3 separate regions of the Homo sapiens genome follow, and regions 1 and 3 are each linked to region 2. The links come from fine-mapping of genetic effects on gene expression. A gene starts in region 2. Each other region holds a variant in brackets. All regions are shown on one strand. Distances are from middle to middle.

The links. PIP is the estimated chance that this variant, and not a neighbour inherited with it, causes the effect. A credible set is the group of variants that fine-mapping cannot tell apart.
Region 1: its variant is the best candidate, but not a certain one, in a credible set for the expression of AQR in monocytes (TOPMed, PIP 0.54).
Region 3: its variant is the best candidate, but not a certain one, in a credible set for the expression of AQR in subcutaneous fat (GTEx, PIP 0.63).

The regions. Positions count from the first base shown.
Region 1 is chr15:34,846,833-34,851,074 of GRCh38, forward strand. It overlaps the pseudogene TUBAP11. Among named protein-coding and RNA genes, the nearest start is that of ACTC1, 53 kb to the left of the region's middle. The variant C/T (reference allele first, on the strand shown) is at 1,946.
Region 2 is chr15:34,967,410-34,971,651 of GRCh38, forward strand. It overlaps AQR (aquarius intron-binding spliceosomal factor), which reads right to left and starts at 2,333. Exons shown (of 35, transcript NM_014691.3): 1 at 2,130-2,333. The coding sequence starts at 2,204. RefSeq lists enhancers at 394-958, 2,127-2,276, 2,327-2,436.
Region 3 is chr15:34,936,973-34,941,214 of GRCh38, forward strand. AQR (aquarius intron-binding spliceosomal factor) reads right to left here. Exons shown (of 35, transcript NM_014691.3): 8 at 3,927-4,027; 9 at 1,765-1,841. Among named protein-coding and RNA genes, the nearest start is that of AQR, 31 kb to the right of the region's middle. The variant A/ATAGT (reference allele first, on the strand shown) is at 1,761.

The sequences.
Region 1 (4,242 bases), 120 kb before region 2:
GTGATACAGCATGTGGGATATAGCTAAAGCTGTGCTATGAACATATTATATATTACTTTTCCCAATATAAATCGGAAAATTCAGCTTTATAATGGACAAATTCCTAAGATAACACAACTTATCAAATCCAACACAAGAAGAAATAGTGTAGTCTTACATTGATAAATACATTGAATCTGAAATTTAAAATCTTCCCACAAAGAAATCTAGCCTTAGATTGTTTCACTGTTGAATTCTTCCAAGTGTTTAAAGAAGAAATAATATCAATGTTACAAAAAACACTTCCAGTGAATAAAAATAGAGTACTCAAAAAACAACAACAACAACAACAACAAACCCCCTGCTGCCTGTAATCCCAGCACTTTGGGAGGCCAAGGTAGGCAGATTTCTTGAGTCCAGGAGTTTGAGACCAGCCTGGGCAACATGGTGAAACTCTGTCTCTACAAAAAATACAAAAATTAGCCAGGCATGGTGGTGTGCACCTGTAGTCCCAGCTACTTGGGAGGCTGATGTGGGAGGATCACTTGAGCCCAGGAGGTGGAGGTTGCAGTGAGCCAAAATTGCACCATTGCTCTCCAGCCTGGGCCACAGAATGAGACCTCGTCTCAAAAAAAAAAAAAAAAAAAAAAAAAGGACTTCTCAATTTCTCAATTCAGTTTATGAAGTCACTCTAATCTTGATATTTAACCTGACAAGTATGGTACAATAATAATAATTATTATTCTGATAGACCAATCTTTCTCATAAACATAAATGCAAGAATGCCAAATAAAATACTAGCAAATGTAATATAGCACTTATAAAAAAAGATTAGGATTGTAAGGTTAATTTTATATTAATTGAAAAAAAAAAAGTCAACTTCTACTTCTGCTCATCCCAGTACATCCCACTATAATCAAGTAAAAGTGGACAAAATATATGAAGCAACTATTTTCAGACATTGACCAACAGGCAGCATAGTTTCGTCATCCTGGAGAGGAAGAAAAGGAAAAAGGTTAGCCCTGTGATTGCCCTGGCTTTTGCCTACAGGCAATTTTTGAAGAGCAGCACAGTTTGCCTTTACCTAGGGGGAACCTAAGTAGAAGCCCAGCAGTCTCACTGAATTTAAGAGACAGAAACTTGGGAAGACTGTGCTGGCTAGAATTTGTAAGGGATAGTAACTAAAAGGAGGAAGTTACACAAAGAAAGGTCTCCAGAAATCTAAAGAGGGGTCCCCTTGAGTCTTGGCTGAATACTAATCTGTACATGCATGGGGTGAAACTTCATGAGGTCAAAGGACAACTGCCTGGGAGCTCTACTAAACAATTCCTAGAGCTCATACAATAGAAAAGGTTTTAATTTATATCAACCCAAGTAGAAATACTTCATTGAAAACCTGGGGCATCCAAAAGGGGCCAGAGAAGGGTCATAGCTTGGTAATAGAGCTAAGTTAGCCCTAGAGTAAAGGTACTCTACACCTGTGTAACAAAGCTTAAAAACAAACATCAAAAAGGTAGATCTAATCCACATGTAACTGCCTGCCAAAACAAACCTCAACACTCTTTAAAGGAAGACAACAAAATCCAAACATCCAACAACACAGCACTTGTAATGTCCAGCATCCAGTGAAAAATTACCAGGCATGTGAAGAGTAGCAACTTATGGCCCTAATTAGAAAAAATTCAATCGATAGAAAAAATAAATCAATGTAATCCACCACATTAACAAAATAAAGAAAAGCATATGATTGGGGAGAGAGAGAATTGGGACAAATACCTAATGCATGGGGAGCTTAAAACCTAGATGACGGGTTGATGGGTGCAGCAAACCACTATGGCACATGTACAAACCTGCACGTTCAGCACAGGTATCCCAGAACTTAAAGTAAAATAAAAATAAATAAATAAAGGAAAGCATACGATCATTTTGATAGATATAGAAAAAGCATTTGTTAGAATTCAGCATA[C/T]GTTAATGATTAAAAAAGAAACACCTAGCAAGCTAGGAATAGAAAGAAGTTCTTAAAACCTGATACAGAGTGTATGCAAAAACCTATAGCAAACACTATACTTAGTGGTGAAATATTGAAAGTTTGCTCCTAAAACTGGGAAGAAACAAAGATACTTGTTCTGACTACCTCTTTTCAGCATTGTACTGGAGGCCTTCAAAAGGCCAATAATCTTACAGGTACAGATGGAACATTGATCTCCACTGAGTGTAAACAATCTAACCAGAAAGCTTTGATGCCTGTCAATTAATGTTGAAGCTTAAATTCTGGGAGTAAGACATGTTGCAGGGATGGAAGGAATGGATAATTAATATTTCTCTCCTCTTTCTCTCCCTCTCCTTTAACAGAATCTATACCAACCTCCTCATAAACCTTCTCAAGGGCAGCCATGTCCTCATTGGGCCTCAGAAAACCCTTCTTCTATGCCCCCCTCACGAATGTACCAGTGAACAAAGGCATGGTTGGCATACACCAGGTCAAAACTTGTGGTCCAGGTGAGCCCAGGTCTCAGCAAAGGCTGTGGTATTGCTCAGCATGCACACAGCTCTCTGTATCTTGGCCAGGTCTCCACCAGGTACCACCATGGGAAGCTCGTAACTAATGCCAACCTTGAAACCAGTGGGACACCAATCCACACACTGGATATTGTGCTTGGTCTTTATGGTGGTAAAGCAGCATTGACATCTTTATGGTGTCACCACAGTGCAACAGGCAGGAAGCCATCATTTGCCATGGCGAAGGTCACATTTCATCATCTGGTTGGCTGGCTCAAATCAAGCATTGATGATCTCTGCTCTAAAGCTCTTCATGATAGGCTTTCTCAGCAGAGATAACAGGGATCAGCATTCAGGAAGCCATCAACTCTAAGGGAAGCATAGAGGGCATAAACTGATGAATAAGGCAGTTAAAGTTAAAGAGACTTCACTAGCTATTGATAGGTTGAGCAATCAATATTGAGATTTCTATGACAGATGTCTACCACAAAGGAACACTCAGAGCGCTCCAGGGTAGTGTGGGTGGTGAGAATGGAGCTATAGGGCTCAACTACAGCTTTGGAAACCTGGGACACTGAGTAAATGAACTCCAACTTTGACTTCTTGCCATAATGAAGAGACAGACATTCTATCAGCAGGGAGGTGAACCCAGAACCAGTTCCCCAACCAAAGCTATGGAAAACCAAGAAGCCCTGAAGACTTGTGCACTGGTTGGCCAGCTTGAGAATTTGGTCCAACATGAGGCCAGTGATCTCCTCGCCAATAGTATAGTGCCCTTGGGCATAGTTATTGGCAGCATCTTCCTTGCCTGTGATGAGCTGCTCAGGGTGGAAGAGCTAGTGGTAGATGGCAACGTGAATTTTGTCAATGAATGTGGGCTCCAGGTCTACAAACACTGCCCTGGGCTTATGCTTGCCAGCACCTGTCTCACCGAAGATGTTAAAGGAGTCATCTCCCCGAGTGGTCTTGTCACTTGGCACCTGGCCATCGGGCTGCATGCCGTGTTCCAGGCCGCAGAGCTCTGAGCAGGGATTATCAATCTGGCCATCAGCCCGGCCAACGTGGATGGAGATGTGCTCACGCATAGTGGCTAGGGATTAAGAGACAAAGGCAACAGGAGCAGACACCAGGTCCCGGTCACTTCTCCTGAGAAGCTGAGTCAAGGTAACACACTCAGAAATCACACTTTTAAAACTATTATTACTTAACATGTTCTGCTTCTGCTTAAATATAAAATGACTTTAGGATAATTAGCATTTTTAGGCATACAGTATTACTTACCAGAGTCCCTTTCTATTATGTGTTTCTCATTCCTTTTTCAAACCAAAACAAATACTAATTTGTCTTTCTCCTGTAAGAATAAATATTGTAAACATTGGGACATTCTTTTTAGAGACCTTTTATTTTCTACCCTGATTTTGGCAACCTAGTCTTTTTGGTATATTGACCATAAGAGAAATTATTTAGTAGGCTTGTCTTACTCATGCACAGTTGGTGTTGTTCTGTTCTTTAATGTGTCTCAAGCAAAGAAATTTAAAGGGCAGCATGGTAAGAAATTTGCCTAAAAGTTACATGATGGTTCTAGTCCCTGTTCAATTAATTGTGGTGTCCCAGGCAAATCACCCAATGCCTTGGTGTTCTCATCTATAAAGTACTAGAGTTGTTTTTGGCATTGCTGCCTGGCACAGAGTTGGCATTCAATAGTCTGTTGATATACAAATATTAGTTTCATAAACATCTTCAAAAGTTTTATTATATTGAATT
Region 2 (4,242 bases):
ATCTGTCTGGTTCTTCCCTCTAAAATGTGAGTTCCATGACAGAAGTAAACTAATAAATGACTTCTACTGCAAAAATGCAGGTATATGGGGAAAGAGACCTCTAATCTCGTTTAAGTTGTCAGGAAAAGCCTCTCTAAAGTAGTGTAGAAGGCTGAGAATGAATAAAGGAAGGTGGGGAGAAAAAAAATGAGGATTCCTAGCAGAGGAACAATGTTGAAAAGCCAGGAGATGAAAGATAGCATGGCACATTCAAATAAACGAAGTTCTGTACAGCTAAGGCACAGAGTTAGAAAGGAAGAGGAAAAAGAGGAAACTGAAGATATAAGCACAGGTCAAATCACACAACACTATGAAGGATTTCAGCCGTTAACCTAAGGGTAATTAGAATTCTTTAAAGATTTCTTTTTTTTTGCTTCGTTTTTAGACGGAGTTTTGCTCTTGTTGCCCAGGCTGGAGTGCAATGGTGCGATCTTGGCTCATTGCAACCTCCGCCTCCCGGGTTCAAGCAATTCTCCTGCCTCAGCCTCCCGAGTAGCTGGGATTACAGGCATGCACCACCAAGCCTGCCTACTTTTGTATTTTTAGTAGAGACAGGGTTTCTCCATGTTGGTCAGGCTGGTCTCGAACTCCCGACCTCAGGTGATCGACCTGCCACGGCCTCCCAAAGTGCTGGGATTACAGGCATGAGCCATCGCGCCCGGCTGAAGATTTTAAGGACAGCCAGCCTTAGTGTAGTCCCTGTAGTCCTAGCTACAAGGGAGGCTGAGGTGGAAGGCTCACTGGAGCCCAGCCAACATAGTGAGACCCTATCTTGAAAGAAGAAAAGGAAGGAAAGGAAGGAAGAGATTTTTTTTTTTTTTTGAGACGGAGTCTCGCACTGTTGCCCAGGCTGGAGTGCAGTGGCGCGATCTCGGCTCACTGCAAGCTCCGCCTCCCGGGTTCACGCCATTCTCCTGCCTCAGCCTCCCGAGTAGCTGGGACCAAAGGCACCTGCCACCATGCCCGGCTAATTTTTTTTCTTTTTATTTTTAGTAGAGACGGGGTTTCACCGTGTTAGCCAGGATGGTCTCGATCTCCTGACCTCGTGATCCGCCCGCCTCGGCCTCCCAAAGTGCTGGGATTACAGGCGTGAGCCCCTGCGCCCGGCCGGAAGGCAGAAATTTTAAGAAGGCAAGTGATATGATGAGATTTGCACTTGTATGAAATCACTCGGAAAGCAACATGAAGAATGGGCTAGAGCAGAGCAAGAGGAAGGACAATATAACAGATTACGATACCTTGGTCCAGGCAGAAAACAATGGCAACCAAGCTTAGGGTGACAGAGATGTAGAACACCAGATAGATTCAAAAGATATTTAGAATGTAGAAATGTAGGGACTAAGGGAAAGGGAGGATTCAAAATCACTCCCTAGGCTTCTGCCCTGGCAAATCTGTTGAGACAAGGAATAAAGAATAAAGAAGCAGGTGGGCATGATAACTTCTACATTGAACTACTTACACTCTTATGCAATTCACAAATAAATAATAAGAATGAGGAATGATGCTGACAACCACAGGACTGTGGTTCCCTATCCAAAGCCAACTGTGGCTCACAATGCAAGATAGTAAACAGATTCTAAATGAACGCTCTCAAACTACAGAATTACTCTGTTTTTAGATAGGTCTATTTGGAGGTGTCTTGTCAGTTTCTCATCGCTGCTCAAAAACTCAGGACACTCTAAGGACCAGGAAAAAGCCTACTCCTACTTGAAGAGGCAGTCCAGCATCACTCTGCTGCGAAGCCTACTTGCCAGTCTCAGATAGACTGGGGTGTTCCCTCCTCTCTGAATCCATTGCTCCTGAGACAAACTCCAACACAGCAAAACTCATACAGTAGTTTTATTTTCATGCGTCTGTCTTCCTTGGGCCATGAACTCCCCAGGGCAGGGCAGCTTCTTTCACCACGGTATGCCCAGCACCTAGCATAGTGGCCGGCACGGAGCTGATACTCAGTAAAAAGACGTGTGTGAATCAATTAACAAACGAATGCCTCCTCCGGACTCCTAAATCCTGAAAAAAAACCCCACCACCAGGCCTCGGGGCCACGACGTCCATACCCACTCACACACACCAGACTCGCCCGAGCTCACCTGGGTCACGAACTCCGCATTGATTTGGGACACCGTAGGGGCCACGATCTTCTTGGGCTGCGCAGGGGCTGCCATGGCAGCACTCTTCCCTCCACTCCAGTGGAAACTAAAGGACCGCTCTGGGCAGCGGCAACCCTGGTCCACTTCCCTTAAGTTACTGCCGGGGCGCTTAACTCCGCGCCGCACAAACGCTCCGGGCCGGATATCCTCAGCCTTCAGAGTCCCGTAGGGAACCCGTACAACAGCCCAAGCGTTCCTCGGGAAGCGGAATGGCGTGTAGCCGGAAGTTCATGCAGGCGTTGGGGCTGAGCTAGCGAGCCAAGAGCTTTGACCTCCTCTGTACACGCCCTCTAGCGGGCGGCAGAGAGAAGACACCTCGCTGGCGGGATTAGGAGGGCAAGGGAGGGACCCGGTGGATGGTGTTGGGTGGGGTTTCTCGTGGTTAGTGAAGAGTGCCGTGTGCGGTGAATGGGGATTTAGTTTTTTTTCAACCCTAAAGAAAAAACAAAACAAAACAAAAAAAACAGCCTGGGAATATGGGCTGGGTTTTAACTGCCCTTAACAGTGTTTTAGTTTAGTTTTGTTTTTTTTGAGACGGAGTTTCGCTCTTGTTGCCCAGGCTGCAATGCAATGGTGCAATCTCGGCTCACAGCAACCTCTGCCTCCCGGGTTCAAGCGATTCTCCTGCCTCAGCCTCCCGTGTTGTTGGGATTACAGGCATGCGCCACCATGCACAGCTAATTTTTGTATTTTTAGTAGACACAGGGTTTCTCCGTATTGGTCAGGCTGGTCTCGAACTCACCAACTTTAGGTAATCCGCCTGCCTCAGGGTCCCAAAGTGCAGGGATTACAGGCCTTAACAGTTTTATGGAGGTAAAAATTGACATACAATAACCCAGCCAGGCGCGGTAGTCACGCCTGTAATCCCAGCGTTTTGGGAGGCTGAAGCTGGCCGATTGCCTGAGGTCAGGAGTTTGAGACCAGCCTGGCTAACATGGTGAAAACCCATCTCTACTAAAAAACAAAATTTAGCCGGGCGTGGTGGCGCGCGCCTGTAGTTCCAGCTACTCGGATTCAGGAGAATAATCACTTGAAGCTGGGAGGCGGAGGTTGCAGTGAGCCGAGATTGCGCCATTGCACTCCAGCTTGGTGACAGAGCGAGACTAGCCTCAAAAAATAAAAATAAAATAATAATAAAAATAATTCACATACAATAACCCACACATATTTAGGTTGTAAAATTTGATGCGTTTTGACATGAACATACATTTGTGAAACTATTGCCAAAATCATAATGAGCATATCAAAGCCTCTAAAAGTTTCCTCGTGAACTTTTGCTATCTGTGCCTTTCACTGTTCCCACCCACTTTTCAGGCAACCACTGATCTGCTTTCTGTCACTATAGTTTGCTTTTCATGGAATTTTATATAAATGAAATAATACAGTGCATGCCTTCTTTCACTCAACGAAATGATTTTGAGATGGATTCATGTTGTTGCATGTATCAGTAGTTCATTCCTTTTTTATTGCTTAACATTCGTTCCATTTTACTGATATACCACAGTTTGATAAACTATTCATCTGCTGATAGACATTTGAGTTGTTCCAAGTTCTCAGTTATTACAAATAAAGCCACTATGAGCATTTGTGTATAAGTCTTCATGTGGACATATACTTCCTTTGCTCTTAAATACTTAGGAGTGAAATATTTGGGTTATACGATAGGTGTGTTTGTTTGTTTGTTGTTTGTTTGAGATGGAGTCTTGCTCTGTCGCCCGGGCTGGAGTGCAATGGCGTGATCTCGGATCACTGCAACCTCTGCCTCCTGGGATCAAGAGATTCTCCTGCCTCAGGCTCCTGAGTAGCTGGGATTACAGGCAACGCGCCATCACACCTGACTAGTTTTTGTATTTTTAGTAGAGACGGGGTTTCACCATGTTGGTCAGGCTGGTCTTGAACTCCTAAGCTCGTGATCTGCCCACTTTGACCTCCCAAAGTGCTGGGATTACAGGCATAAGCCACTGCACCCGGCAAGTATATGTTTAAGTTTTTAGAAACTGCCATCTTTCTAAAGTAGTACTATTTTACATTCACATCAGGAGCATATAATTCT
Region 3 (4,242 bases), 30 kb before region 2:
GCACTTAGTGGAAAGATTTAGATATACTAACATTAAGAGACTTAAGATTATAAGCATAAAACGTTTTCTTTCTTTTCTTTTTTGAGACTGAGTTTTGTTCTGTCACCCAGGCTGGAGTGCAGTGGCACAATCTCGGCTCACTGCAAGCTCCACCTCCTGGGTTCACACCATTCTCCTGCCTCAGCCTCCTGAGTAGCTGGGACTACAGGTGCCTGCCACTGCGCCTGGCTAATTTTTTGTCTTTTTAGTAGAAACGGGGTTTCACTGTGGTCTCGATCTCCTGACCTCGTGATCCACCCACCTCAGCCTCCCAAAGTGCTGGGATTACAGGCATGAGCCACTGCGCCCGGCCAAAACATTTTCTTTATACTAATGCTAGTAGTAGTACTGTGCCCTAAGTCAGATACAACTGATTTACTGCATTGGTATCAATTCCTCACTGAATCGTAGCTAAGATTTTCAATTGTAAAATATTACTTGGAGGGTCAGCATTTATAACTCATTCCATTGTGTTTTTTTAAAAGCTGTACTTTCTGATGCAAAAATATAAATATGGTATACCTATATAAATATGGTATACCTATAGAGCTGTTCTTAGATTATATTCCACTTAAAAATATTAAACAATTGGCCAAGCGTGGTGGCTCACGCCTGTGATCCCAGCGCTTTGGGAGGCCGAGGCAGGCAGACTGCCTGAGGTCAGGAGTTCGAGACCAGCCTGGCCAACATGGTAAAACCTCGTCTCTACTAAAAATACAAAAATTAGCCGGGCGTGGTGGCACACGCCTGTAACTCCAGCTACTCAGGAGGCTGAGGCAGGAGAATTGCTTGATCCCAGGAGACGGAGGTTGCAGTGAGCCAAGATTGTGCCACTGCACTCCATCCTGGCTGACAGAGTGACACTCTGTCTCAAAAAAAAATAATAATAATTAAACAATTATATTTTAATTATATTTTATAATTTTAATATAGTATATATATATACTTACTTTTTAAATCAGTAAATGGAGCTATGATGGAGGAAAATCCTTCTATTTAGTCTTTTAGCTCATATCTCAGTAATATTTCTCCTTTTTTCCTCCAACGGTATCAATAGGACTTAAAAACACTATTCAGCACCATATTATAAATAACATGCAAATATGGTCTGTAATTTTCCTCTTCACAACTGTATCCCAGCACCTTAGACAGGACCTGGATCTAGTAATTAGGTGATAAAAAATTTGCTACATAAAGGAATATTTCAATAACCACACTGGTGCCTTTAAAATAACCCTTAGGCCAGGTGCAGTGGCTCACGCCTGTAATCCCAGCACTTTGAGAGGCTGAGGTGGATGGATCACTTGAGGTCAGGAGTTTGAGACCAGCCTGGCCAACATGGAGAAACCCCGTCTCTACCAAAAATACAAAACTAACTGGGCATGGTGGTGCATCCCTGTAATCCCAGCTACTCGGGAGGCTGAGGCAGGAGAATCACTGGAACCCTGCTGGGGGAGGTTGCAGTGAGCCGAGATCATGCCACTGCACTCTAGCCTGGGTGACAGAGCAACACTCTGTCTCAAAAAATAAATAAATAAAATAAAATAACCCTTAAAGGCAGTCCCAATACTCACACTGGTAATGTATTTAAAAAGGAGAGGACATACACTTTGCCAATACAATTTAAAATCATTCCAAGAACAGTTTTTAGATTAGAGATGAGTAAATACCATAGGGGCAGCTATATGATAATTTCACAAATGCACTGAGTAAAAAAGAAG[A/ATAGT]TACCAGAAAGTGGGACTGATTTCAGCACAGAGATAAACTTCTGGATGAGTTGTGAAAGAAATCTCCTCTCTTGATATGCCCTAAAATCAGAAAGAACATTGACCAATTATTTTTGAAGAATAGTCATTTCAAAAGTAAACTTTAAATGTTGACCACGGCTTTCCAATATTGTTCAACTGTTCATTTCTTTGTGAAGCTGGGACTATAACTTCAATATACAGCTTCTTCTTTCTATGTAAATACAGTGCTATATGAAGAAAAGGAGAGTCACATTACTGACCTAATAAGCCACCTAAGCAAGCACCTCCTTCTCTCACCGTGAACGTTTTCTTTTTTCTGCTTTTTTTGTTTTTGAGGTGGAATCTCGCTCTGTTGCCCAGGCTGGAGTGCAGTGGCGCGATTTCAGCTCACTGCAACCTCTGCCTCCCAGGTTGAAGCAACTCTCTTGCCTCAGCCTCTCGAGTAGCTGGGATGACAGGCGCCTGCCACCATGCCTGGCTAATTTTTGTATTTTCAGTAGAGATGCGGTTCCACCATCTTGGCCAGGGTGTTCTTGAACTCCTGACCTTGTGGTCCACCCGCCTCGGCCTCCCAAAGTGCTGGGATTACAGGCATGAGCCATGGCGCCCAGCCTGAGACACAGCTCCCAGCCAAACATTTTCATTTGTGATTTACAAGTCAGACCGAGAAAGAAGTTTCAAAATTCCATTTATAGTCTGCCCTTACCATTAAAAATCTCACATTTAATGTAGTTAAAATGAGATGAACAATATTATATTTTAACGTTTAAGTATAATAGAGTATTACAATAGCTAAAGATCAAATGTTTAAAAAATAATTTTCTATTCATTACTACTTTAAGATATATCCATTAATGAACAGACATGTATCAAGTATCGTACAGCTGTAAATGCTTGTAACAGTCCTGCTGGAAATACAAAGAAGGGGAACGGCTAAAATCTACTTGCAATAACAAGTCATATATTATAAACACAATTAGTAATACATGCCAGTATGTGATTAATAAAACTGCCTGACATTAATTAAGCACGCATTTTGCCAGGATCTGAGCTATGCTAAACACTTCACATCTTATTTAATATTGATAACAGTCCTCGGAAATGGGTACTACTGTCCAGATTTCACAATGAGGCTTAGAGGTGAAGTAACTTGCCCAAAGTCATACAGCAATTGAGTGTGGAATCTAGCTAAGTCTGATTGTAGAACCTACATCCTCAACTACTATACATATCCCAATCATTACATAAACAGCTGGTGTTTCAAAAAAAAATCACAGAGCATGTGTTCTAGGAGTTCAGATGAAAGCACTATGATCTAAAGTAGTTGGTCTGGAAGAGTGTTTATATGGTTAATATTCAATTAAGTGGAGTGAAGAGGAAAGGGACTTAGGAAAGAAATGCTAAAGAAGCAATGACTAGAGTAGTCCAGTGATTTGCAAGAGTCACAAGAAACAGCTGCAAGCTTCTGAAAACCTTGTAAGAAGTTTAGAGTTAGGCTGGGTGCAGTGGCTCACGCCTGTAATCCCCAGCACTTTAGGAGGCCGAGGCAGGCGGATCACCTAAGGTCGGGAGTTTGAGACCAGCCTGACCAACATGGAGAAACCCTGTCTCTATTAAAAATACAAAATTAGCCAGGCGTGGTGGCGCATGCCTGTAATCCCCTCTACTCAGAGGCTGGGGCAAGAGAAATCGCTTGAATCTGGGAGGCAGAGGTTGCAGTGAGCCACAGTCGCACTATTGCACTCCAGCCTGGGCAACAAGAGCGAAACTCCGTCTCAAAAAAATAAAAAAAGAGTGAAGGAGTAAGAAAAAGAAAGAGAAGTTATATTAATAGCCTGAAGATAGTGGAGAAAATTGAGAACCATCCATGAGGGAGACGGACAATAGGCAGGGAGAAAAACAGTGGGTCAACTATATATACTTAGCAGCACAGAAAGAAGGAAAAGAAGAAAAGCATGATGCTCTGGCTTCTGCTTTAGATCTTTGTGGAAAATATTCTTAATGACAGTCTAGGTAAAAGCACTTATTATAATAATTTATTTGCACTCAGCACTATATAAAGGGAAACAACAAACCAGTCAACATCATCTAAGGTCCACAATCCAGCATAATAAGCCAACATGAAATGAAGCTCTGCCAACATACTGTTCTCTTGCTTCTGGATCCATCTTTTCATCATTCTTTTTAATCAAGTTCCAGAATTTTCTTAGCTTAGGTGTCTTTTTTAATTCTAATTCCAATCGTGCCTGAAGAAGAGATGTGTTATTAAATTACCAGTAGCCTCAAAGTTTACAAGGATAAGGATTAGATCAACTATTTGCTAGTTTTCTAATATATGAGTACAAAATAGAGCAATCTGATAAAACCTGAAAATAACATGACAAACCCTGAAAATTAAGAAATGAATAACGATATTTTAAAAAATTATTCAACTCTAGCTCTTGTTAATAAAAATACAAAT